2 separate regions of the Homo sapiens genome follow, and region 1 is linked to region 2. The links come from fine-mapping of genetic effects on gene expression. A gene starts in region 2. The other region holds a variant in brackets. All regions are shown on one strand. Distances are between the middles of the regions.

Region 1 (17,182 bases), 26 kb before region 2:
CCGCCTGGCTCAGCCTCCCAAAGTGCTGGGGTTACAGGTGCAAGTCACTGAGCCTGGGCGTGTTTATCCTTTTGGGATTCATTTATTTCACTGAGGATAATGTTTGCAAGGTTCATCCATGTTGCGGCCTGCCTCAGAAGTGCCTCTCTGTTTTTTTGTTTGTTTGTTTGTTTTTTGTTTGTTCGTTTGACTTTGTTTTGTTTTGTTTTATGTTTCCATGGAGTCTCACTCTGTCGCACAGGCTGGAGTGCAGTGGCACAATCTGGGCTCACTGCAACCTCCGCTTCCCGGGTTCCAGCGATTCTTGTGCCTCAGCCTCCCGAGTAGTTGGGACTATAGGTACAACGCCACCATGCTTGTCTCATTTTTTGCATTTTCAGTAGAGACGGGGTTTCACCAAGATGGCCAGGCTGGTCTTGAATTCCTGACCTCAGGTGATCCGCCCACCTCGGTCTTCCAAGACGCTGCGATTACAGGCGTGAGCCACCGCACCGGCCAGAAGTGCCTGCATTTTTAAGGCTGAATAGTCCTCCATTGTATGAAGGAACTGCAGTGTGCTTTTTCATTCATCTGTCCACGAACCCTTGGGTTGCTTCCACATTTTGGCTGTTGTGAATAATGCTGCTATGAATATGGGTGTACACAAATCTGTCTTCCACTCCTGGCTTCTAATTCTTTTTGGTAGGTACCCACAAATGCAACTGCGGGAACATCTGATCATTCTGTTTCTAATTTTTCCAGTAGACGCCATACTATTTTCCCTGTTCCTTCACGGTTTTACATTCCCTCCAATCATATTCGAGCATTCCTACTTCCCTCTAGTCTCACCAATGCTTGTTTTTTTTTTATCATATCCATCCTAATGTGTGGTATCACATTCTTGGTTTGATTTGTGCTTCCCTATGATGAGTGACTTTGAATATCATTTTAGATGCTTATTGGCCATTGCTATATCTTCTTTAGGAACACGTCTACTCGAGTCTTCTGACCATTGTTGATGGGATGCTTTGGGTTTCTTGTTGTTTAGTTCTAGCTGTTCTTTATATATGATGGATATCAGCCTCTTTTCAGATATATGCTTTGCAAATATTTTTCCTAATCCATGGGTTATCTTTTCACTCAGTTCACAGTGTTTTTTGCTGCACAAAAGTGTCTGTCATTTAGATGTAATCCAAGGAATCTAATTTTCTTTTGTTGCCTATGCTTTTGGTGTCATATCCCAGAGAACATTGCCCAATCTGATGTCATGAAAGCATGGCCAATGTTTTCTTTTAGGCGTATGATACTTTTAGCACTTGGGGTGAGGTCTTTGATCCAGTTTGTGTTAATTTTTGCACCTGGTGTGACATAGGGTCCACCTTCATTCTTCTGCATGTGGAAATCAAGTTTCTCCAACACCATTTCTTGAAAAGGCTTCTTTTCCACCAATGAGCTTTCTTAGCACTCATGTGAAAAATCATTTGAACATATAGATGAGAAGTTATTTCTGGGCTCCAAAACAAACAAACAACAACAGACAAAAGATAAGGATACAGCATGGGCCAGGCGCTGTCGCTCACGCCTGTAATCCCAGACCTCTGGGAGGCCGAGGTGGGCGGATCACCTGAGGTCAGGAGTTGAAGACCAGCCTGACCGACAGGGAGAAACCCCCGTCTCTACTAGAAATACAACATTAGCTGGGCGTGCTGGCGCATGCCTGTAATCCCAGCTACTCGGGAGGTGGAGGCAGGAGAATCGCTTGAACCCAGGAGGCAGAGGTTGCGGTGAGCCAACATTGCACCATGACACTACAGCCTGGGCAACAAGAGCGAAACTCCATCTCAAAACAAAAACAAAAAACCAGCATGATTTCAAGAGCAGAAAGAGAAGAGCTTAAAAACCAGCATAATGAGAAAGTTAGGAAGTTTCTTACCAAAGCATCTGGAAATATGCAAGCAATTCTTGTGAAGTAAAATTTTCATACTGTGCTATGAAACACTGGAACTCACTTATTCCATCTTTCTGTATTTTGGGACCCAATTATCCACTTGTCTTCATTCCCTATCGCACCCCTTTTCTTCCTAGCGTCTGCTGATCACCTTTATACTTTCCACCTTCCTGAGATTCCTTTTGTGTGTAGGTGTGTGATGGAGTCTCTTTCTGTTACCCAGGTTGGAGTACACAGGCACAATCAGGGCTCACTGCAAGCTCCACCTCCCAAGTTCAAGCGCTTCTTGGGCCTCAGCCCTCTGAGTAGCTGAGACTACAGGCACGCGTCACCACGCCCGGCTCATTGTTTGTGTTTTCCGTAGAGACAGGGTTTCACCATGTTGGCCAAGCTGATCTCGAACTCCTGGACTCAAGTGATCCGTGCGACTCGGCCTCCTAGAGTGCTGGGATTACAGGCCTGAGCCACAACACCTGGCCAAGGTTTCCTTTTTTCTTCTTACATAGAAGTGAGGACATGAAATATTTGTCATTCTGTGCCTGGCTTCTTTCATTTAATATACAGACCTGCAATCTCATCCATTTTGTCTGCAGCGGAGAGGAGTTTCTTCCTTTTTCGGCTGAATAATACTTCACTGGGTGTGTATACCACAGTTTCTTCATTGAAACAAATTTCTGAAGAGCAAATATTTTTAAAATGTCTCAGAATGTGAAACCTCAGGGATACTGTGTCCATTTTATTCTTTTCTATTTCCTATCTTATGTATATGCAAGTGTATAACAAAGCAGCAATCAATGTGTGTATAAATCTACAACTTCAACAAATGTAAAATGTAAATGCTAAGTGGTGGCTGGGCGCAGTCGCTCATGCCTGTAATCCCAGCACTTTGGGAGGCGGAAGCGGGCGGATCACCTGAGGTCGGGAGTTCAAGACCAGCCTGACCAAAATGGAGAAACACTGTCTCTATTAACAATATAAAAAAAAAAAAAAATTAGCCAGGCATGGTAGCGCATGCCTGTAATCCCAGGTACTTGGAAGGCTGAGACAGGAGAATTGCTCGAATACGGGAGGCAGAGGCTGCAGTGAGCCGAGACCGTGCCATTGAACTCCAGCCTGGGCAACAAGAGTGAAAATCTGACTCAAAAAATAAGGAAAAGAAAGAAATAGAAAATGCGAAATGGTAAGAAACAACAACATAATAAACATTTGTATGGTGTTGATGGACAATGCATTTGAAGATAATATTTGAAGAAATCATATTACAATTAATTTCTGTTCTTACTCATTGGAGCTTGATGCCTCTAAAAACTTCGTCATTGGAACCACCTCTGGTGCTTTAAAAGAAAAAAAAAAAAATCCACATACTCACACAGGTGCAAGGAAATCAGAATCTCAGGTATTGAGACCCAGGCCTCATCATTTGTAAGCTCCCCAGGTGATTTGACTCAAAGCCAAGATTGAGGAATGGCGACATGGATCTCTACACAGAACCTGCCTAAATAGATTCTCTAGAAGCAGTTTATAAAGATATTCCACGTGGACTGTGGAAGAGGATATGAATTTGATGTACAGCATGTCCTCACTTAACATCTTTGAAAGTCTCTTGGAAACTTCACCTTTAAGCAAAATTATGTATAGTGAAACCACTTATTTTTCATCAACAGTATAACTACACATCTTTGAACAACTGATGGTGTTGGAGGACCTCCTGTACATTGTTTCCATAAAGTCAGTTTTCAGGGAATTCCAAAAGGAAGTGAGGACTTCGTGTATATAAAAAGATGGTTGTGATTCCACCTGGATGACAGGGTTATTGCTCAGAAACTAAAAGAGGCCACCTAGGTATAGAGGATTCTGTCATGAGGTTTCTGCTAAACAAAGGGTCCCAGAATCCTCACCCATTCCAGTGAAAGGCATAGCGAAGAAAGCAATATTCACAAAGGAAATGTGGAAAGGAATAAAAGCCATCAAGCCACAGAAAGAATGTGACTAAGGGGCAGGATTTGCAGATGTAGAGATTTAATGTGGTTGCCCTTTCTCACCCACACAAGAGAAAGGATGGAACAAATCATGAGATTCGACTGTTGTGCTGTGCAGCCTCCACAGGGCACTTTGTATGTTCCTGTTTCTCAGGCTGTAGATGAAAAGGTTCAGCATGGGGGTGACCACAGCATACATCACTGATGCCACCACACCATTCCTGGGGGGTTGTGACACAGCTGAAGTCAGGTACATGCCAATGCCTGTTCCATAAAATCAGCAAACAACGGCTAGGTGAGAGCCACAGGTGGAGAAGGCTTTATACTTCCCATCTGACGATGAAATCCTTAGAATGGAGGGGATGATTTTATAGTAAGACCATAGGATCCCTGAAATGGGAAGAAAACCAAACATAGTACTATCGAAATATATGAATATGCTATTGATGACGCTGTCAGAACAGGCAAGTTTGAGAAGTTGAGAGGGGTCACAGACAAAATTAGAGATTTCCAAATTCTAGACGATGGTGAATTGTAACACAATCCAACTGTGCAGCTGGGAATCCAACAGGCTAAGGAAAAAGGACACCAAAACGAAGACACAGAGGTGAGGATTCACGATGACTGGGTAGTGCAGAGGGCGACAGATGGCTACAAAGCAGTCATAGGCCATCACAGTCAGGAGCATGCCTTCTATACATGCAAAAAGGACCAAGAAAGACATCTGCGTCAGACAGCCCGCATGAGACGTGACTCTGCTATGCGACTGCATGTCCACAATCATCTTGGGAACCGTGGCGGAGGTGAAACCGATGTCAGCCCAGCACAGGTTGGAGAGGAAGAAGTACCTGGGGGTGTGGAGGGGGGAGTCAGAGCAGACAGCCAGGATGCTGAGCAGGTTCCTCAGCACCGTGACCAGATACATGGACAGGGACAGGGACAGCAAAGCGAGGATAGGCTGCAGTTCTGGGTCCTCTGAGAGTCCCAGGAGGAGGAATTCTCAGACACCTGTGAGATTCCGTGGCTCTGTGTGTCTTGGACACCTTGAGAAGGAAAGAGGATTGGAAAAATAGCAGATAAAAACCAGCCCTTAATGCTGGATGCAAGCAATTCACAAGGAACATCTTCACACTTGCGGACCATACACCGCCAGCAATGTTTCTCAGTTGTGACAATTCCAAAAAATCTCAGAATTATTACGTGATTTACTTTTTTGCTATACAAGGCTTTCTGTACATACTACTTTAGAGAAAATCCACTGAAGAATATCAGAGACCAAAACGTTATATATAACAAATCCGTGATCTCAGTAAAATACGGCCTACTCTTTTCAGAAAAAATACAATGCAATGACAATGTCCTTTCTCTTGAAGAAAAAGATCTCAGTCTAATTGAAAGAAATTAAGAAGCCGTGAAATGCACTCTACTTTATTCTGACCCCGTGCTACAACTTCCATTGATGTAGAATATGTAAAAGGACGACACAAGAGCTAGGACCCCATTATCTGAAAACGACATCGAACCTTATAGTTCTCAATCGAAAGATTTTCACATGCCTGTTACTTTTCATATTTATTATCATCCTTCGGTTTTCTGACATCACTTCTTCATAAAAGTACATGCACGCTCAAAGATGGGAGCTGTGTTTCCAAATGAATTGAATCTATAACTCTTGGCCCAGCACCATGGCTCACACCTGTAATCCCAGCACTTTGGGTAGCCGAGGCTGATGGATCACCTGAGGTCAGGAGTTCCAGACCAGCCTGGCCAACGTGGTGAAACCCCGTCTCCAGTGAAAATAAAAAAACATTAGCCGGGTGTGGTGGCGGGTAACCCTAGCTACTCGGGAGGCTGAAGCAGGAGAATCCCTTAGAACCTGGAAGGCAGAGATTGGAAACCCTGTGATAGGATTTTTGACAGCCTAGGGAGATATTGCACCTGACAGCAGAGTCGGCGTACACCCTGTGATATTATTTGTAATATCCTAGAAAGATATTTCTCCTAATATCACAGTGGCTGTACACCCTGTGATCTTAATTGTAATATCCTACAGAGATATTACTCCCAATAATACAGTGGGTGTACACCCTGTGATATTATTCATAATATATTACAGAGATACGACTCCTGATATCACAGTGAGTGTACACCATGTTTGTACACCCTGTGATCTTATTTGTAACAACTTAGAAAAATATTACAGCTAATATCAAAATGGGTGTGCACCCTGCGATGTTATTTGTTTTCTACTAGGTAGATATTACTCCTAATATCACAGTGAGTGTACACCATGTGTGTGCAGACTGTGAAATTATTCATAATACTCTAGGAAGATATTATTCCTCATATCACAGTGGGTGTACACCGTGAGTGATTTTTTTTCTAATATCCAGCGGGGGAGAGGATGATATTGCTTCCAATATCACGGAAGGTGTACACCCCGTTGTGATATTGTTCCTAATATCCAGGGAAGGAGAGGATGACATTATTCCCAATATCACTGGGGGTGTACCACCTCCCTCCGGGATATTGTTCTTATTGTCAGTAGGTGGAGAGAATGATGTTACTCCCAATATCACAGGGGGTGTACACCACCCCTGTCTGTAAACACCCCCTGTGATATTGTACCAAATGGCCTGTGAAAGAGTCAATATTACTCCCATTATCGCAGGGGTGTTCAGACCTGATGATATTGTTTTCTAACATCCAGGGAAGGAGAGTATGCTATTATTCCCAATATAGCAGGGGTTGTACACCTTTTTGTGTTATTGGGCCCAATATCCAGGAAAATAGAAGATGATAGTACTCCCAATATTGAAATAATTGTACAGCACCCTTGTGATATTCTTCCTAATATCCAGAAAGGAAAAGAATGATATTACTCCCAACAGCGTAGGAAATGTATACCCGCTCTGTGATATCTTTCCCCATATCCAGGTGGGGAGAGGATCATATTACTTCCAATATCGCAGGGTGTGTACACCCCCTCTGTGATCTCGTTGCTAACATCCAGGTTTGGGGAGGATGACATGACTCCCAATATCTCAGGGGGAGTTCACCCCCCATGACCTTGTTTGTCATTTCCTTGGTGGAGAGGATGATATTACTCCCAATATCGCAGGGGGTGTACACACCCCTGTGAAAATCTTCCTTATATCCAGAGGGAGAGAGGATGATATTACTCCCAGTACCGCAGGGTGTTTCCACAGCCCTGTGATACTCTTCCTAATATCCACAGGGAGAGAGGATGATATGACTCCCAATATCGCAGGGGGTGTACACCCCTCCTGTCCTATTGTTCTGAATACCCTGGGAGGGAGAAGATAAGGTGACATTGAATATCACAGGGAATGTACACCCTCCCCCTCTGATACCCTTCCTAGTATCCAGGGGAAGAGAGGATAATTGTACTCCCAATATCGCAGAGGCAGTACACCCCACCTGTGGTATTGTTCCCAACATGCAAGGGGAGAGAGGATGATACTACTCCCAATATCGCAGGGGTGTTCACATCCCCAGTGACATTTTTCCTAATATCTAGGGGAGAGACAATTACATGACAGCAAATGTCGCAGGGTCTGTACATCCCTTCTTGATATTGTTCCTAATATCCAGGGGGGAAGAGGATGATATCGAATATGAAAGGGGGTATACAACCCCCACCCCTAAGATACTGTTCTCAATATTCTTGAGGGGAGACGATGATATGACTCCAAATATCGCAAGGGTTGTTCACACCCCCCTGTGATACTCTTTCTAATATCCAGGAGGGGGAGAAAATAACATGACTTCTAATATTGCAGGTGGTGTAAACCCCACCTGAAATATGGCACCGAATATCCAAAGAGAGAGAGGATGGTATTCATACCAATATCGAAGTGTGTGTACACGCCCCTTGTGACATGGTTTTTAATATCCAGGGGGTGGGAGGATATTAGTCCCAAAGTCCCAGAAGGTGTACACTACCCCTGTGATATTGTCCCTAACTTCCAGAGGGAAGAGGATGAGATCACTCCCGATATCTCAGAAGTTGTACATCCCCTGTGATACTGTTCGTCATATCCAGGGAGGCACAAGATGACATACCATTGAATTTCACGACAGGCGTACACGCACACTGTGATATTGTTCCTAATATCCAAGAAGGCAGAGGATGGCATTACTCCCAATAAAGCAGTGGGTGTACACTACCCCTGTGTTATTGCCTCTAATATCCGGGGCCGGGGGAGGGGGGGAGAGGATAACATTCCCTCAAATGTAGCAGGTGGTTTGACGCCCCTCGTGGTGTTGTTTTACATATCCATCGCGGAAGACAATAATACTATTTTGATAGTCCGATTCATCCCCTCCACCTTTCCGGAACTCTGAGGCCGGGAGGCAGCAGGCAATTTCCGTGTGATCCCCAATTCCTTTGCCGTCTTCTGTAGCAAGTCAGCCACAAACGCAGGCCCGTTATCTGAGCCGATCCGGAAGGGCAGTCCCAATCTACGAATCAGATCTCGAAGAAGCACACGGGTTACTTCACGAGCTTTCTCAGTTGTGTTGGATAAGCCTCCACCCACCCAGAGTAGGTACGGCCAAGAACTAGTAAATACTTGTTACCTCCACACTTTGGCATCTCTGTGAAGTCTACCTGGAGATCTTCTAAGGGGGCTGCTCCATAAGCTTGTATGCCGGGTGGAACGGCTGGACCTTGCCTCGCTTTATGCTGTCGGCAGGTAACACACCGCTGCCTCACCGTTTTGGCAAGGGCTGAGAAACGCGAGATGTAGAAATACCGGCCTAACAACTTTTCCAGTGACTCCTGACCTCGATAGGTGGTTTCTTGCACAGCCAGTACAACTGCAGCTCCTAGCAGCTGTGGCGCAGCTACTCTCCATCCTTCCTCCATCACTTGTCCTTCCCTCTACCTGGACAAAGTCCTTTTCTTCTTTAGAATAAGCAGGTCCAAGATCAGGTGCTTGAGGGAGCAGAGGAGCTGTGACTGATGCCTGGAAACGGGCAGATGCTGCTTTTCCAGCCTATGAGTCAGCGCGGGAATTCCCCAAGCCCACCAAGGTGGAAGCTCGCTGGTGTCCCCTGCAATGCATAACTGCCACCTTGTGGGGTTTCCATACTACTTCTAATACATAGAAGATTTCTGGTTGATATTTTCTGTCTTTTACCCCAGAGTTTAATAGGCCCTTTTCTTTCTATCACGCTCCATGCATGTGAAGGGTTCAAAAGACATACCGAGAATCAGTGTAAATGTTGACAGTCTCACCCTCACTGAGCTCTAAGGCCCAAATGAAAGCAATGAGTTCAGCTTTCTGGGCTGAAGTGGCCTGGGGCAACGATCTGGCTTCAACAACAGTGTCCAGGGTTATCACTGCATACCCTGCACCTCTCTCTCCTTGGGGGTTGAAGAAGCTGCTCCCATCCACGTATAGTTCCCAGTCTACTGATGCCCAAGGCTGGTCCCAGAAGTCAGGTCTGCTAGAGTCAACTGAGTCCAACACTTCTACACAATCATGCTCGACGGGGCTCTCTGATAGCGGGAGCAAGGTGGCAGGGTGTTACAAACTTCAATGGTTACACGGGGATTTTCACAGAGCAAACTTTGGTACTTGGTGAGTCTGGCATTCATTAGCCAATGATGTCCTTTAATATTCATTAAAGTCACCACAGCATGGGGGGCCTTTCTGTTCAGGTTCTGCCCAAGAGTCAGCTTCTTTGCTTCTTGTACTAGCAGGGCAGTTGCTGCCAAGGCCCTCCAACACAGGGGCCATCCTTTAGAGACCCCATCTAGTTGTTTAGAGAGGTAGGCCACCGGCCTCGGCCAAGGCCCCACAGTTTGGGTTCAAAGTCCGGCTGCCATCTTTTCTCTCTCTCTGACACATAGGATGTAAAAGACTTTGTCAGATCAGGTAGCCCCAGGGCTGGGGCTGACATAAGTTTCTCCTTTAACTCACGAAAGGCTTGCTGTTGTTGGGATCCCCATTCAAAAATTTCCCATCCCCGCCCCCTTTGTGACCTTATACAAAGTCTTGGCTAATACTGCAAAGTTTGGGATCCGCAGTCTACAAAACCCCACAGCTCCTAAGAATTCTCTCACCTGCCTTCTGCTCTTAGGCTCTGCTAGATTGCAAATGACCGGCTTTCTTTCTGATCCCGGGCTGCGTTCCCCCTGTCGGATACTAAATCCCAAGGAACATACCTGCTGTCAGCAGATCTGAGCTTTTTTCTTGGACACCTTACACCCACAGTCCTCCAGGTGTCGGCGTAGGGCAATCTGTTCCCTTGGTGCACCCGACTGCCATGAGGTGTCCCAGCAAAAGCTCATCAACCTACTGGAGCAATGCGCAGCCTAGGTCTCTGGTGGGAAACTTCTGGAGGTCTCAAGCCAACGCCTCCCCAAAGATGGTGGGGGAGTTCTTGAACCCTTGGGGAAGCCCGGTCCAAGTGTACTGAGTAGTGACACCTGACTCCGGATCTTCCCACTGAAAGGCAAACAGCTTCTGCCTCTCAGGGGCTAATCTGATAGAAAAGAAAGCGTCTCTCAGGTCCAAGCAGGTGAACCAGCTGTCCTCAGCTGGCAGCAACCCCAACAACATGGACGGGCTAGGTACTGTTGGATGTAAAGTCAGGGTAGCTTGACTAAACAAGCGCAAATCCTGTCCC[A/G]GCCTGTAATCCTTGGTCCATGGCTTGGGAACAGGCAGGAGGGGAGTGTTCTGTGGAGACTGACAAGGAACTATCATACCAAAAGTTCTTAGGTGCTTAAGATGGACCTGGATACCTTGAAGAGCTTCTCTGGGGACCAGGTCCTGTTTTTGCCTAAGTGGCTGGGCCCCAGTCTTAACTAGCCAACCCTGGAGGGTTGTCTTCTGCCCGTACTCTTGGCCTCTGCTTAGCCAGAGCTGGTCTTCTCTCTTGGCCCGGTTCAGTTCACAAAAGTCTCCATTCCTCCTCTCGGGGGACCATAAGGTCATAATGACTCCCGTGGCGGGTAACTTTAGCAGCAAAGAGCTGTGTTCTGTCAAAGAGAGAGCAGCTCTCAGCTTGCTAAGCAAGTCCCTTCCCAACAAGGGCAAGGGACAGTCAGGCATGTACAAAAACTGATGAATCACTTGATGTCCTCCTACAGTGCAAGTCCCAGGCAAGCAGAAAGCTTGCTTTGCTGAAACCCCCATGGCTCCGGTGATGTCAAGGGTCTTTCTGGATAACGGGCGACCGGAGCGGTTACTAGCGAATGTTCAGCACCGCTATCCACAAGAAAGTCAATGTCTCTACCCCCGACTCTCATTCTAACCAGAGGCTCTTTGGAGACACTTGAGCCTGGTCTCCCTCAGTCCAATAATCCTTTTGCCAGGTTGAGCCGGGCCCCTTCCTCCTTGTCCGGGGCCTCCTGCTCTGAGTCACCTTGTTTTCTTTTGAGCTCAGGGCATTTGTTCTTCCAATGTCTTATTTCTTTACAATAAGCACTCTGGTTACGCTGCAAACTCTGACAGCCAAGCTGAGTTTCTTTCCCAGGGCTCCCCTTCCCTTGCTTCTTTGGGGGGACAGCTCTGATTGCTGCAGCTAACAAACAGGTCGGCGTTTTGCCGGGCCTGATCTCCATTCTCTTTGCGCTTTCCCTCGTGGCTTACTGTATCCCTGTTTACAAACACCTGCTTAGCTATTTCTCATCAATGTGATGTATTCCTCCCTGCAAGCCCAGCCTGCTTCTGCAGTTTTCTTCTAACGTCTTCCGCACTTTGACGGACTAAAGCCATTTGAATCATGCGCTGATTTTCAGGGTTATCGGGATCAAGGGGAGTATACATACCATAGGCCTCACACAGTCTCTGGTAGAATTGTGCTGGACTTTCTTCTTTTCCCTGAATGACTTCAGAGACCTTATTAATATTTGTGGCCTTCTGAGCTCCCCTCTTGAATCCTTCCAAGAGAGCTTCCCTGTCTCGGTTTAGCCTTTGCATATCCTCTCTTTCATGTGGGTCCAACTGGGGGTGGGTTCCTGGTAACTAGGTCCTTCCATACTCTTGGGGGTTTTGATAATCAGCTGGTGCATGTTCCTCTAGCCACTTAGTTGCTGCGTGGAGCCCTCTCCGCCTTTCGCCTTTCACCTCTCTTAAAGAGGAACATGAGCAACCGGTGGCGATCAGCCCAGGTGGGGTTGTGGGTCTGGATAACAGTTTGGAGCAAATCTATTAGGGCTTGCGGCTTTTCGCTCTAGGACGGGGTATTGTTTTCCCAGTTGAGAAGGTCGGCAGAGGTGAAGGGCTTTTACACAAAAACACGCCTCTCCACCACGTGACCATCCTCCTCTCTCCCAGTATACCGCTGCTCTCTCAGGGGCATTTGGATCCCCGTTTTGGGTCGTAAACGAGCTGCCAAGGGAGGGGTGGAATGGCGCAATGTTACTTACCGCAATTAATAATATCAATTATTAATTGATACTGATAATTATCAATATTAATAACTGATCATATAATTCTTAAAATCAATACCTATAATAATGATAATTCATATTAAAGAGCTATACTCACAATAACAACAAATGATGAATGTTAATGATTAATGACGCCTGGTCTTAGTGATATTGATCTTATTCATTAGAAAACTGTCATATTAACTCCTAATAATTAACATTAATTTTAATAATCTGAACACTTTTTTAGCAATGATTTCTTAATATTAATATTAGTAATACATATTCATGTTAATAATAAATGAGGAAGAATTAATACGAATATTATCCCTAATACCTCAGTGGGTGTACACCCACCTGTGATATTGTTCCTAATGTCCAGGGAGGGAGAGAGCATGATATGACTTTCAATATCGCAGTAGGAGTACACCCACCCGGTGATATTTATCCGAATATCATCTCCAGGGGGTGGCGTATGACGTTACTCCCAAGATAGCAGTGGGTGTGCATCCACCCGGTGATATTCCTCCTAATATTCCCGGAAGAAGAGAATGCTATTACTCCCAGTATCTCAGGAAGTGTACACCCCTTCTGTGACATTGTTCCTAATATCCGGAGGGGAGAGGGTGATATTACTCGCAATATCGCAGGCTGTGTACACCCACCCTCTGATATTGTTCCTAGCAGCCAGGAAGTGAGAGGACGATATGACTCCCCATACAGCAGGAGGCGTACACCCATCCTGGGATATTATTCCTAATATCCACGGAGAGGAGAGGCTGATATGACTCCCAGTATCGCAGGGGGTGTACATCCTGTCTGTGATATTGTTCTTAATATTCAAAGGTGGAGAGGTTGATATTACTCCCAATATCACAGAAAGTGTACAAACCCGTGTACTATTGTTGCTATTATCCAGAAGAAGAGAAGATGATATCACCCCCCCATCGCAGGAGGTGCACACCCACTCTGTGATATTTTTTCCAATGTGCAGGGCAGGGGAGGATAATACTCTTCTTCATAGCACACGGTGTGTACAGCCCCGCTGTAATATGGTCCTTAATATTCCAAGCGGAGAGGATGATCTTACTCCCAATACTGCAGAAAGTGTACACGACCCCAGTGATATGGTGCCCATGATCCAGGACAGAAGAGGATGATGTTACTTTCAATATCGCACAGGGTGGACACGCCCCCAGTGATATTGTTCCTAATTTCAACGTGGGAGAGGATGATACTACACGGAATGCCCCTGGGGTAAAAACACTCCTGTGATATTGTTCTTAATATCAAGGGGAAAGAGGATGCTATTACTCCAAAGAGCGCAGAGGATGTGCACCCGTCTGTGACATAGTTAGTAATTTCCAGAGGCGGAGAAGATATTACTGACAATAACGTGAACACACTGTGTGACCACCGTGGATCGTCATATCCGGGGGGGAGAGGGGGGTGATATGACTCCCCGCATCGCGGGGGGCGCCCGCCCCCCTGCGATGTGGATCGTCATATCCAGGCGGGGAGGGGGGGGTGATGTGACTCCCCGCATCGCGGGGGGCGCCCGCCCCGCTGCGAAGTGAATCGTCATATCCAGAGGGGGGTGATATGACTCCCCGCATCACGGGGGCCTCACCCCCTTGCGATGGGGGTCCTAAGAGCCAGCGGGGGATAGGGGCTGGCTCTTACTCCCCGTACCCCGGGTGGGGGGCCTCACCCCCCTGCGATGGGTCTCCTAAGAGCCGGGGGAGAGAGTGGCTGGCTCTTACTCCCCGTATCCCAGGAGGTGTGTACAACCCCTGCGATATTGGGAGTAATATCATCCTCTCCCCCTGAATATAAGAAACAATATCACAGGAGGATGTACACCCCCTGCGATATTGGAAGTAACATCATTTTCTCCCCCTCCGGATATTCGGAACAGTATCACAGTGGGTGTGTACAGCTCCTGCGACATTGCCGCTAGTATCTTCCTCTCCCTCCCAGGATAGAAGGAAGAATGTTACAAGGGGGTGTACACCCCCTGCGATATTGGCTATAATATCTTCCTCTCCCCCGCTGCCTTTTAGGAGCAATGTCACACAAGGGGTGTACACCCGCGGCTATATTGGGAGTGATATCATCCTCTCCGTCCCTGGATATTAGGAACAATATCCCTAGGGAGTGTACACATCCTGCAATATTCAGACTAATATCATCCTCTCGCCGCCTGGATATTAGGATCAATATCACAAGGGTGGTGTGCACCCCCGGCGAAATTGGAAGAAATATCATCATCTCCACCTTTGGATGTTAGGGACAGTATCTCGGGGGAGGTCTCCGCCCCCTGCGATATTGGGAGTCATATCATCCGCTCCCACCCAGGATATTAGGAACAAGATGACCGAAGGGATGTACGCCCACTGCGCTATTTTCAATAATGTCATCCTCTACCCCCTGGCTATTAGGAGTCACATCATAGAGGGGTGTACACTTTCTGCGATATTGGGAGTAATATCCTCCCCCCACGGATATCGGGAACAGTTCTATTGATTATTAATATTACAAATATAATAACAATTAATAGTAATCATCAATATTAATAATTACTGTAGAGACAGTAAAACAGTACGGATGAAAAATATTAACGGTTACTATTTATAATTAATAGCAATTTCAGTATTAATAATAAAATAATGATATCACTAATTAATGTTACTTCAATCATAAGTGATGTTGGTAATAAAACAATAATTAATATTAAGATTAATAACTAATATTAAAAGTGACATTAATATTAATAATTAATTTTAATCATGCATAATCATATCTCAAAAATAATCATTAATGATTAATAACGTTATACTGTTAATTAATATTACCATTGATAATTATTAATAAGACTGATGTTTAATAATTCAGAATATTATTACTGCTAATACCGCAGGGGGTGTACATCTACTTGTGATAATGTTCCTAATATCCAGGGATGGAGAGCATGATATTAGTTTTCATATCACAGTAGGTGTACACTCACCCTGTGACACCGATCCTAATACCCAGCTTGTAGAGTATGACATGACTGCCAACATAGCAATCAATGTACAGCCACCCGGTGATATTGCTCCTAATATTCACGGAAGAAGCGTATGATATTACTCCCAATATCGCAGGGAGTGTACACCTCTTCTGTGATATTGTTCCTAGTATCCCGAGGGGGAGAGGGTGATAATAATTCCAGCAACGCAGGCTGTGTTCACCCAGCCTGTGAAATTGTTATTAATATCCTGAAAGGGAGAGGATGATATTACTCCCCATAATAGAGCAGGAGGTGTACACCCACCCTGTGATATTCTTCCTAATATTCAGAGGCCGAGAGGTTGATATTACTCCCAATATCGCAGGAAGTATACACCCCTGTGTGAGATGGTCCTTCATAATATTCCAAGGCGGAGGGGGTGATATGACTACATATATGGCAGAAAGTGAACACCCCCCAGGGATATTGTTCCCATGATCCTGGAGGGAAGAGGATGATATTACTTTCAATATCACAGAAGGTGGACACGCCCCCACTGATATTGTTTCTAATTGCAACGTGGGACAGGAGGATATGACACGCGATATCCGAGGGAGTGGAAACACCCCTGTGATACTCTTCTTAATATTCATGGAGGAAGAGGATGATATTACTCCCAATACAGAAAGGTGTACACCCTCTGTACACTGAGGGTATACACCCATCTGTGAAACAGTTCATAATCTCCAGAGGGGGAGATGGTGTTGCTCAAAATAAGGTAAACAGGCTGTGAGTCCACCGCGGATCCTAAAACCCAGGGGGGGAAGAGGGGCTAGCTCTTACTCCCCGCATCGCAGGGGGTGCCTCACCCCCCTGTGATGGGGGTCCTAAGAGCCAGGGGGGGAGAGGGGCTGTTCCCTACGTTGGGGCACTGAGGTCCCTGTTTTCTTGTAAGCTGCCATTGGGGACCACTCTCGGCTTCCAGGGGCCCCCTTGTAGGTGGCACCATGGCCACTTGCCCTACTCCAAGCCTGCAGAAGAGCGCCTCTCTGCCATGTCCCTTTCTTTTAAAAGACTTGCCTGACTGGTTCAGGTCCATTAGGTAGCGTCCCATTTGATTAGCTCAAAAGTACTGTAGCCCATCACATTCACTCACAGGAGGGCATTAGCGGGGTGTGGACACCAGGGAGTGAGAATCTCTCAGGCCAGTTTAGCATTCAGTTGGTTAGCCAGGTTCAGTGGCTCACGCCTGTAATCCCAGCACTTTGGGAGGCCAAGGCGGGCAGATCACCTGAGGCCAGGAGTTCGAGACCAGCCTGGCCAACATGGTGAAACCCAGTCTCTACTAAAAATACAAAAATTAGCCAGGCGTGGTGGTAGGCGCCTGTAATCTCAGCTACTTGGAAGCCTGAGGCAGGAGAATCGCTTGAACCTGGGAGGTGGAGGTTGCAGTGAGCCGAGATTGTGCCTTTGCACTCCAGCCTAGGCGATACAGCGAGTCTCAAAAATAAATAAATGCGAAGGCTGCTGAGCACAGTGGCTCATGCTTTATAATCCTGGCACTTTGGGAGGCCGAGGCAGGAAGACTGCTTGAGGCCAGGAGTTTCAGCCTAGCATGGACAACACAGTGCCACTCTATCTCTAAGTAAAATAAAATAAAATAAAATAAAATAAAATAAAATAAAATAAAATAAAATAAAATAAAATAGTAAAATAAGAATTCAGTTGGTTAAAAGAAACTCACTAGGTCCAGCCCACAATCAAGGGATGGAAATTACACAAAGTTGTGAAGAGTCAAGGGTGGGAGATCGCTGGCAGCCCTTATAGATGCTGCCTATCTCACATACCTGTTGGACAGCTTCTCTCTCCTAGCTGGG
Region 2 (9,547 bases):
CAGTGGGAGAGATGCTGGCACCACAGGCCTGCTGGACCACTGTGGCCTGAAGCCAAACGGGGCCACAACCGCAGGTCCCAGCTCACAGGGCTTTGTGAGGTAGAGAGAGTCGAGGGCACTGAGATGGAATATCAGATACACAGACTTGCTGAGTGGCCTCAGGCAAGCTACTGTGCCTCAGTTTTCCCAGCTGTAATATGGGCACGGAGCCCAAACCACAGGCCTCTCATCACCACTGTGAGGATGGAGAGTGACCCATGGGTGTAACCAGCCCTCATGCGTGTTCTGGGCTCTCTGATTCTCCCATTCCCCCTTCTCCTCCCAAGCTCATGCACTGTGTCTGTAGGGCCCAGGGGCTTGACTCAGGCTGGGAGAAGAGAAAGGAAGAGGCCCCACTGCTGGGAGCAGCAGAGCCAGAGTCCCGGCACCCCTGCCTCCAGTCCATTGCTTTTATGAACCATGGTGGTCAGTCAGGAAGTTTCCACCTCTCTGGGTCTGGGAAAAGGTCACACAGTGACAATAGAAGGGGCTTGGTGAGTGACAGGATGAGGGCTCAACCACCCATGGAGGCTGATCAGGCCAAAAACCACTACTGGTATCTTCAAGTTTTCTGTATTTATGCTCCTTAAGTAAAAATGCCAGTAAAAATGTGCATTCACTGCTGGTGAGGATGTGGTTTGAAAGTGGCACATATAGGCCAGGCACAGTGGCTCACATCTGTAATTCCAGCACTTTAGGAGGTGGAGGTGGGCAGATCACCTGAGGTCAGAAGTTTGAGACCAGCCTGGCCAACATGGTGAAACCCCACCTCTACTAAAAATACAAAAATTAGCCGGGTGTGGTGGTGCACACCTGTAATCCCATCTACTTGGGAGGCTGAGGCAGGAGAATCGCTTGAACCCAGGAGGTGGAGGTTGCCGTGAGCTGAGATCGCGTCACCGCACTCCAGCCTGGGCAACAGCAAGATTGCTCAAAAAAAAAGTGGCACATATAGCCAGTGGTCACACACACTGGCATAACCCTTTGGGAAAGCAGCCTGGTAGTTTTGGCAGGGGGTGAACATGTGGATTTGAGTCCCTCTACTGGGGTTCAAGCCTTCAGTCTGCCAGTTACTGCCTGTGGGACCTGGGCAAGTTGTTTAACACCATGGTTTCTTCATGTCTAAGACTGGAGCAGCTTCCTCAAATTATTGGGAATGAAATTGCGCTTATAAAGTGCCCAGCACGGCCGGGCGTGGTGGCTCGTGCCTGTAATCCCAGCACTTTAGGAGGTGGAGGTGGGCAGATCACCTGAGGTCAGAAGTTTGAGACCAGCCTGGCCAACATGGTGAAACCCCGTCTTTACTAAAAATACAAAAAATTAGCTGAGCGTGGTGGCGGGCGCCTGTAATCCCAGCTACTCAGGAGGCTGAGGCAGGAAAATCGCTTGAACCTGGGAGGCAGAGGTTGGAGTGAGCCGAGATTGTGCCATTGCACTCCAGCCTGGTGATAGAGTGAGACTCCATTTCAAAAAAAAAGTAAAAATAAAAATAAATAAATAAAATAGAGTGTCGGGCAGACAGGAGACAAGAGTTCACTGCTATTAGTAGAAGTGATAGGTTTCAAAAGCCATAAAGCCTTTTGTATGGCTTGGACCTAGTAAAGACATTGTTGAAAATGTATCCTAGGAAAAATAATTGTTTAAAAAATTGGGGGAGTGCTGGATGTGGTGGCTCACACCTGTAATCCCAACACTTTGTGGGGCTGGGGCGGGTGAATTTGAGACTGGCCTGAGCAACATAGCAACTCCCCATCGCTACAAATACTTTAAAAATCAGCCAGATGTGATGGCGTGCGCCTGTAGGCCCAGCTACTCGGGAGGCTGAGGTGGGAGGATTGCTTGAGCCCAGTGTGTGGGGGTTGAGGAGGCAGTGAGCTGTGTTCGTGCCACTGCACTCTAACCTGGGTGACAGAGTGAGACTCTGTCTCAAATAATAATAATAATAAAATAAATAAACACATAATTTAAAAAAAAAAAACAAGGAAACAGATGTAAGCACAGAAGGAACTGCAGTGTCCAATTCCAAGCCACTGTTCAGTGCCACCGTATCTGCAGAAGATGCTACCATTGCAAAGTCGTAACTGTGAAGGCTGTAGAGTAGGCTAAGATATGCTCAGTGAAAAGAAGGAAGCAAGCTCTGGGCACTGTGGCTCATGCCTGTAATCCCAGCACTTTGGGAGGCCAAGGCAGGAGAATCACTTGAGGTCAGGAGTTTAAGACCAGCCTGGTCAACATAGTGAAACCCCATCTCTACTAAAAGTACAAAAATTAACCGGGTGGCAGGCGCCTGTAATCCCAGCTACTCAGGGTGCTGAAGTAGGAGAATCGCTTGAGCCTGGGAGGCAGAGGTTGCAGTGAGCCGAGATCACACCACTGCACTGCAGTCTAGGTGACAGAGCAAGTATCTGTCTCAAAAAAAAAAAAGTAAGCAAGCAAAAGCAAACATAGCCCGCTTGCATACACACACACACACACACACACACACACACACACACGGGCACGTCCACACACGTGCTCTGGGGACAAGGATGTGAATGTAATCCATGCATGCTGGTGGGACAGCATGGGTAGCCGATTTCCTGGAGGGCTTAGATGGGGTTTCTTTTTTATGATTTCAGTTATTCTAATCCTGCCTGTGCAACGGGAGATGTTTTAAATTTTCAAATTTTTGTTTAAATGGAGTTTTCTCTTGTTGTTTTGTTTGTTTGTTTGTTTTAAAGATGAGGGAGCTCAAATTCACCTAATTTGTCCACTGGTCTCCAGGTCCCATCAGGGAGGGCACTGTGGACCGGTGATGGGGAGGCTGAACCACATACCTCCAGGGCTCAGATCTGGGGGAGAGCTCTGGGGCACCTGCCCAGCCATGCCTGTCTGTGAGAAACACCCCCTCAGCACCAGTCACAGCGACTGGGCCAGGCATGGGTGCCTGGACTTTGCTGACCGATCAGAAACCCCTAACTCTACAGCCCCAACCCTGAAGGCCACAGTGGCTCTGGGAGGCCTCCAAGGAGGCCACGAGGAGGGTGCCACGTGAGGCCCAGGCAAGCTGGGAGGGAGCTCAGCCCGTGTGAATCTGTTGCTGGAAACCAAATGTGCCCTGAGGCAAAGTTCCTGTTTCCTTCCCCAAATCCGAGTTTCACCCCCTTCACTCTCAGGCTTCCGGGTAGAAAAAAACCTCTCCCTTGTTCCCTCGCCCCACAAACACCCCGGCAGATGGACACCTCCTGGCCCGCCGGCCTCTGTACCCCTCCGAAATGGGAGTACCGCAGCATCCCACAGGAGCAGCCGCGCCCACCTGATGAGCACAGGTGTGTAGAGCAGGGCGGCGATGGGAGTCACGTTGATGCCCATCAGCATTTTGCTGTCGATGTCGGGCAGCCCCATGTTGCCATACTTCACCTCGCGGTAGGTCTCGTCGTAGTGCAGGATCAGCTGCATCTGCAGGAGGCCTGGGGACAGGACAGAGAGCGGCGTGCAGGGAGCAGCCTAGCTTTGGGCGCCACCGAGCAGAAGACGGCATGCAGGCCTCGCAGGGAGCTCCAATCACCGAAGGCATTCCCGCTGACAGCGCCCCTCAGGACAGCGGGGTTCCCGGGCTGCGCCACGCCTTCTGCCAGCCCGCGGCCACTTGGCCAGCTAAGCCCAGACCCCCACCCGCCTTGCTCCGCCGGCCTCCAATTCTGACGGTGGCAGGTCTGTCCGGGAGCCCGGACCCCCGTCCCCCACCCACACCGAGGCTCTGGCTGGGACCCGGGGACGCTGCGCTACTTGACCCCCCAACCCCACCCCCGCCGCGGGGGGCCGTGGCTGCAGCTGCGAGGGCAGCGGAGGGGAAGTGAGAGCGGGCGGGAGGCGGCGGCCCGCGGTTTCTGTTTCCCGGGCCGGGCTGGGAGCGGGCGGGGCGGCCCCGGGTCCCCGAGCGGCACCTACCCAGGTAGACGCCGTAGGTGAGCATGCCCCCGGCGCTGGCAGCCAGCACGTTCTTGAGCACGCCCAGGCGCTTGCGGCGGTAGTAGCGGCGCTCCTCCTCCTCCTCGTTGTAGTTGGGGTACGCGCCCACCAGCTCGTCCAGCTGCGAGCCACGCACGCCGCTCGCACCCGCGATCGCGCCCCGAACCCGTGTCCCCCGGTGCCCGCCGCCCCCCGGCCCGCCCCGCCCCCGCCGGGGGGACCCTGGCCCACAGGGGACGCCCGCGCCTCGCACTCCGGGTCCCCGCTCACCGGGGCCTCGGGCCCGTCCGGGACCCCGAGCAGGTCCTCGTCGCCCTGCGGCCCCGCAGCCCCCGCCATCGGGTAGAGCGGCGGCTCCGCCTCCATGGCCCGAACTACTGCGGACTCGCGGCGGTCGCCCCGGAGTCCCTGCGACCGCCCGGCCACTTCCTCCCGGCGGCCGGGACCTGCCCCCGCCCCGCCCTGTCCCGCCCTGCGGGCCGCCTCCTCCAGGACACGTGTGTGTGTATGTGTGTGTGCGCGCGCGCGCGCGCGTGTGTGCAGGGGCCTGCCTGTGTGTGCCCTCTGGGGTGTGAGTTCGAATCCCCACTCAGCCACCTCCTGGCCCTGTGACTTTAGGAATTAACTCCATTTCTTTGTGCCTCGGTTTCCTCCGTTTCCTCGACGGTAAAACAGAAATACATGGCACTACCCCCGGGGCCATGGCGGAACTATTGAGTTAATGCAAAGCCTTGGAAAAGTGCCAGGGTTGCCTGGCTCCCTTAAGCTCCCCTCAGGGTTGCCTGGGTCGTCCCCAGCCCCACCTCCAAGCCTGCTGTTACAGCTCATCAAAGAGCACTGCAGGGACAGTAGCGTCACCACCTGGACCCCACCTCCCACCACCGGACGCTACAGCCAGAGCCCACCTCCCATGTCCCCATCCTGCTCCAGTTTGGGCTGTGCAAATGGGAGCTTGAGTGGGTCCTGGGAGGTGGAGATTGTGATCCCCACTGAACTACATGGGGGACCCTGCCACAACCATGTAGTGGGGCCCAGAGCCACCTGCCCCCATCCTGCTGGGCACTGGATCCCGGGCTGCAGCGGGAGCCTGTGGTGGGGCCGACACTCCAAAGCACTGGCTACCACCGACCTGGCTGGAGCCACGGGGCCACTTTTGAAAATATCCAGATTCTCTCCCCTGGGTTCCTTCTGGTTTGAATGCTCTTCCTGCTGCGCCTCCCAGGTGGCTTCCTTCCCACTCAGCTCTCAGAACAAGAGACCATCCCTGCAGAGAATGCAGTCCCTTCACTTCCCTTCTGGTTTTCCATGCCCTCCCTGTGCACCCCCCTCCACCCACTGCTCTTTAGGTACATCCTCTCCCAAATGCAGAGGATGGCATTGGGCACCTACTGAGTGATCAATACTTGTGACTGGATGGGTGCATGAGTGACTGGATGACAAACACCTCCCACCCCGCAAGGATTGCTGGGAAGGTGGGGGGAGGCGTGAATCTGCAGTGGCTTCAGGCTTCCAGGAGGTAGAACTTTCTCCAGGTGACGATGCCCAAGTGCAGATGTGGGGAACAGACAGGTGGATTCATGCAGGTGGGTGGCTGGAAGTGGGAGACAGGAAAGGAGCCGAAGAGAGGGCAGGGCCCGAGGCGCAGGGGCAGGGAGGAGGTGGGAGAGTATGGCTATGGCGGGGGCCGTTCTCAGATGGCAGACACCAGCATCATTACACAGTATGATGAGAAAGTGCAATTCTCCTGACTCAGCCTTGTGAGTAGCTGGAATTACAGGCGTGTGCCCCTACACCCAGCTGATTTTTGTATTTTTAGTAGAGATGGGGTTTCACCATATTGGCCCAGGCTGGTCTCGAACTCCTGACCTCAAGTGATGTACCCGCCTTAGCCCCCAAAGTGCTGGGAGTGGGCCCCCCGAGCTTCTCAATTTCCCTGAGGGACCCCAAACTTCTGGGGCCTGGTGCAATCTCTTCCTCCCCTTGTTCCTCTGGGCCTGGGGGTTGTGGCGGTTGCTATGGTTGCCCATCCTGGGCTCTTCCATCACCTGTGCTGTACCACCAATTCCCTGCACTCAATGTCTCCTACTCAAAACACCTGGAGAGGGTCGGGCGCTGTGGCTCACGCCTGCAATCCCAGCACTTTGGCTGGCCAAGGAGGATCACTTGAGCTCAGGAGTTCAAGACCAGCCTCAACAAAGTGAGACAAACCCCCCCCCCCAACCCATCTCTACAAAAAATACAAAAACTAGCCTGGTGTGATGGTGGACACCTGTAGCCCCAGCTACTCAGGAGGCTGAGGTGGGAGAATTGCTTGAGCCCAGGAGGATGAGGCTGCAGTGAGCTGAGATTGTGCCACTGCATTCCAGCGTGGGTGACAGAGTGAGACCTCTCAAACAAACAAACAAACAAAAAACAAAAAAAACAAAAAACAGCCCTGGAGGCACTAAACCCTGACTGATACACCTCCTCTCTCCAGAAAGGATTTTTTTTTTTAGGTGGTTTATGGAGCTGCTCTTGGGGAGCCTGGAGACTATCTAAGAGGCTGATAGGGTGGCCCAGATAAACACACCAGGGTGACCTGCGGGACAGAGATCTGAGCAGGGCCAGCACCTCCACCAACCCATCCAGGTTGCAACAGTGCACAGTCACATCCCCAGGAAGGGGTGGCCAGATCCCCCCGTGCTCACTGTTTGCCAATGCTTTTCTCTATAATAAGCCTTTACTTTCAGTTCTCATTATGAAAATAATCGATGTTCCTTGCAGAAAAGCAAGCAGAAGAGAATAAATATTGCTCTCAACTGGAACTCCCTGAAACAACCTCTTGGAATATTGTTGCCCCGCATTGCACTGACACAGGAGCGTGCTGGGCAGCCCACGTGATTCCCTTCACACCACTTCCCTGGCATGGATGTGATTCCACAATATTTTAAACATTAAAGCCAATGGGGATGATGATCACTGAGTCTGGCTCACAGGATGGTGGGAGGTCCCCAGGTTGGGGTGTGCCAAAGGCTCTGCCCAGTGCCTGGCACAGCAAATGCCCAGGTGGCTGCTGCTTTCCACTGAGACTTGAGGCTCCTGAGAGTTGGTGGCAAAGGGCTCACCCAGAGCTGAAGACTCCAGCCCATTCCTGTGCGAGGGCTCCAGGCACCTTGGAAGCACCGTGGGCCGGGGAGCCAGGCCAGGCTGGTTGTGGATCCCCATGAGTCCTTGTCACTGTGTGGCCCAGCTGGAAAGCATGGTCAATAATGTCTGGGAATTGTGAAAATTGTGTGAAGTGTCTGCACACAGTAGGTGCTCAGTAAAGGTTTGTTGAGTGCGTAAATGAACAAGTGACCCGCATTCACCGTTGCCCGTGAGTTCTGACTGTGTCCTGGGCCCTGGGCCCCTACAGCCTCTAACTTTGCCTCTTCAAGGAGCCAGGGTGGGTCCAGCCTTCAAGACTGCCAGGGAGGGGGTGGGAGGCAGGGCCAGGGCCTCAGGGCCAAGGCCTGGGGCAGCCACTTCCTCAGGAGGGCAAGGAGAGGGGCAGGAGGACATTCACATGCTCTGAGCGCCTACTGAGAACCAGGTGCCCTGTCGGTGCCTTCAGGTCGGCTCTCGTTTCACCCTCGCAGTAGCCATGTGAGGCAGGCAGAGTCAGCCCCCATTTTACAGCTGGGGAAACTGAGGCCCAGTGAGGGGACGTTTCTTTTCAAGGTCACTCGTGGGCAGATGAGGCAGTGAGATGCTCTTGGGCAGGTCTGAGGCCCTGTGAGCCAGGCTCAGGGGCGTGTTTCTGAGAAGTGAGGGAATGAATGAATGAATTATGAATGGATGAATGATTCCACCTGATGCCATGCTCATGCCCTGCCCACACTCCTGTCCTAGAGTCTGGAAGGTAGCTCTCAGACCCTTCCAGAGGGGGCCGGGCACTTGGAATGGTCACAGTTCCGGGCCCACGTGCATGGAATAACTTGTTTCAGCCTCACAATCACTTATGTCCCATTTTACAGATGGGAAGGCAGAGGCACGGGGGGTTAAGACACTAACCTAGGTCACACAGGTAAGTGACAGGACCAGGATTTGAGCCCAGACCTCACACTTAACGCCCTCCATGCCAGGTGCTGAGATCCATGCCTGCCGAACCCTCTCATTCACCCACAGATGCCCCCGGGACTGTAGTCAGCCCCATTCTCACATGGGAACACTGAGGCCCAAAGAGGCGAAGCGTCAGCCCAGCAAGGAGGAGGCAGGGCAGGCGGGGCCGCAGCTGTCTGGCCCGGAGCCCTGAGCAACCCCTCCACCCACTCCCCCTGGCTGGCCTGGGCCTTGGCAGACCTCACCCCAGAGCTGGCTCCAAAAGTGAGTCCTCCTGGTGCCCTACCCAGAGGGCTCCCCATTTACCCTGGGCTCCTCAACAAAGATGGGACTCCCAGGCCCTACTGAGCCTCTGGAGCTTTGAGGAGTAGTGAGGGGCACCCAACCCAGAGTGGGGAGGGCCCAGCCCTCCTGGGAGGTGTGTGGCCTCCCTTGGGGGGAGCCTCACTCCCAGGGAAGGCTAGGAGTTCTGTCCCGGGAGGACAGGCCTCTTCGGGGGCCTCCTCCCAGGTTGCTCCTGCATTCATGACAAGTTCGGCCCCTGTGAGTTGGGGGAAATTCTTCAACAGCTCCCTGGCCAGGGAGGGGACCCTCGGGATCCTGAAACACCCCTCCCACCTGCCAGTACCCGCCAAGATGGGTCCCTGATTTGCTGTGTGGCCTTAGACCAGTGGCTGCCCTCTCTGGGCCTCACTCCCAGCTGAGACCTACAGGCTCAGCCCCTGCCCAGCCCTGCCTGGCACCCGCTCAATCTGGCTGAGCTCCAGAGAATGGCAGGGCTGGGCTGTCACATGCTGAGCCACGTGACTGGCAGTGGCTGGGGGCTCCATCCCACACAGAGGACAGGGGCTCTGCAGTCCTTCACCCCCACCCTAACTATCTAATCACGGGCCACCGGTGTGGGCATGGTCCAGAAGACCTCACCGCCCTCCCAGGTAGGCAGGGAGCTGGCGGGTGGGGGGGGCCATGATGAGCACCTCCCAGGTGCCACGTTGGCCCAGAGGCCCCGGGGCCGGGAGCTACGGAGGCCCAGGGCACCAGGGAGATGGTAGCAGCGGCAGGCCCAGGAAGGGGCATAGAGGAGGCTCTTCCTCCACACCTGTCACCCTGTCCCCTGCCTGTCCACACCCACAGCAGCTTGCACATCATCCCCACAGCACGCTGGCTCTGACAGGTGTATCCGGGGCGGGCTGGGGGCAGGCAGGGACAGGCTTAGGCACAGCTGCCTGTGCCGAACTTGAGGAAGATCGGGACTACAGGAACCACCAAGGCGACACGTGGCATCATGACCACGGTCCTAAGCAGAGAGGCAGGCACTCCTCCTGGGAGGCAGAGGGGACATCCGAAACGGGTGCAGCCCCAGCTCTGGAGCAAGAAGCTCTGCCACACACACGCCCCATGTTCACATCCCACCCCCTCTCTGCCCCCACTTCCTCGTTTGTAAAATGTTAGATCTGCAGAAAGACAGGCTCTATGA

Which allele goes with the higher level. Positions count from the first base shown, and alleles are read on the strand shown. Sizes are in standard deviations (SD) of each study's normalised expression.
In carriers of allele G in region 1, the expression in esophagus muscle of the gene that starts at base 4,410 in region 2 tends to be lower than with A alone (small effect, 0.19 SD a copy in GTEx).

Evidence for each region. PIP is the estimated chance that this variant, and not a neighbour inherited with it, causes the effect. A credible set is the group of variants that fine-mapping cannot tell apart.
Region 1: its variant is the best candidate, but not a certain one, in a credible set for the expression of UNC93B1 in esophagus muscle (GTEx, PIP 0.67).

The regions. Positions count from the first base shown.
Region 1 is chr11:67,970,265-67,987,446 of GRCh38, forward strand. LOC124902697 (a long non-coding RNA gene) reads right to left here and starts at 8,793. Exons shown (of 2, transcript XR_007062743.1): 1 at 8,509-8,793; 2 at 7,802-8,404. It also overlaps the pseudogene OR7E1P. RefSeq lists an enhancer at 1,801-2,301. The variant A/G (reference allele first, on the strand shown) is at 10,567.
Region 2 is chr11:67,999,688-68,009,234 of GRCh38, forward strand. It overlaps UNC93B1 (unc-93B1 regulator of TLR signaling), which reads right to left and starts at 4,410. Exons shown (of 11, transcript NM_030930.4): 1 at 4,261-4,410; 2 at 3,970-4,111; 3 at 3,335-3,488. The coding sequence starts at 4,356. It also overlaps a transcript of ALDH3B1 not described here. RefSeq lists enhancers at 2,963-3,162, 3,263-3,312, 3,413-3,462, 4,367-4,910, 4,911-5,453 and silencers at 3,763-4,172, 4,233-4,532.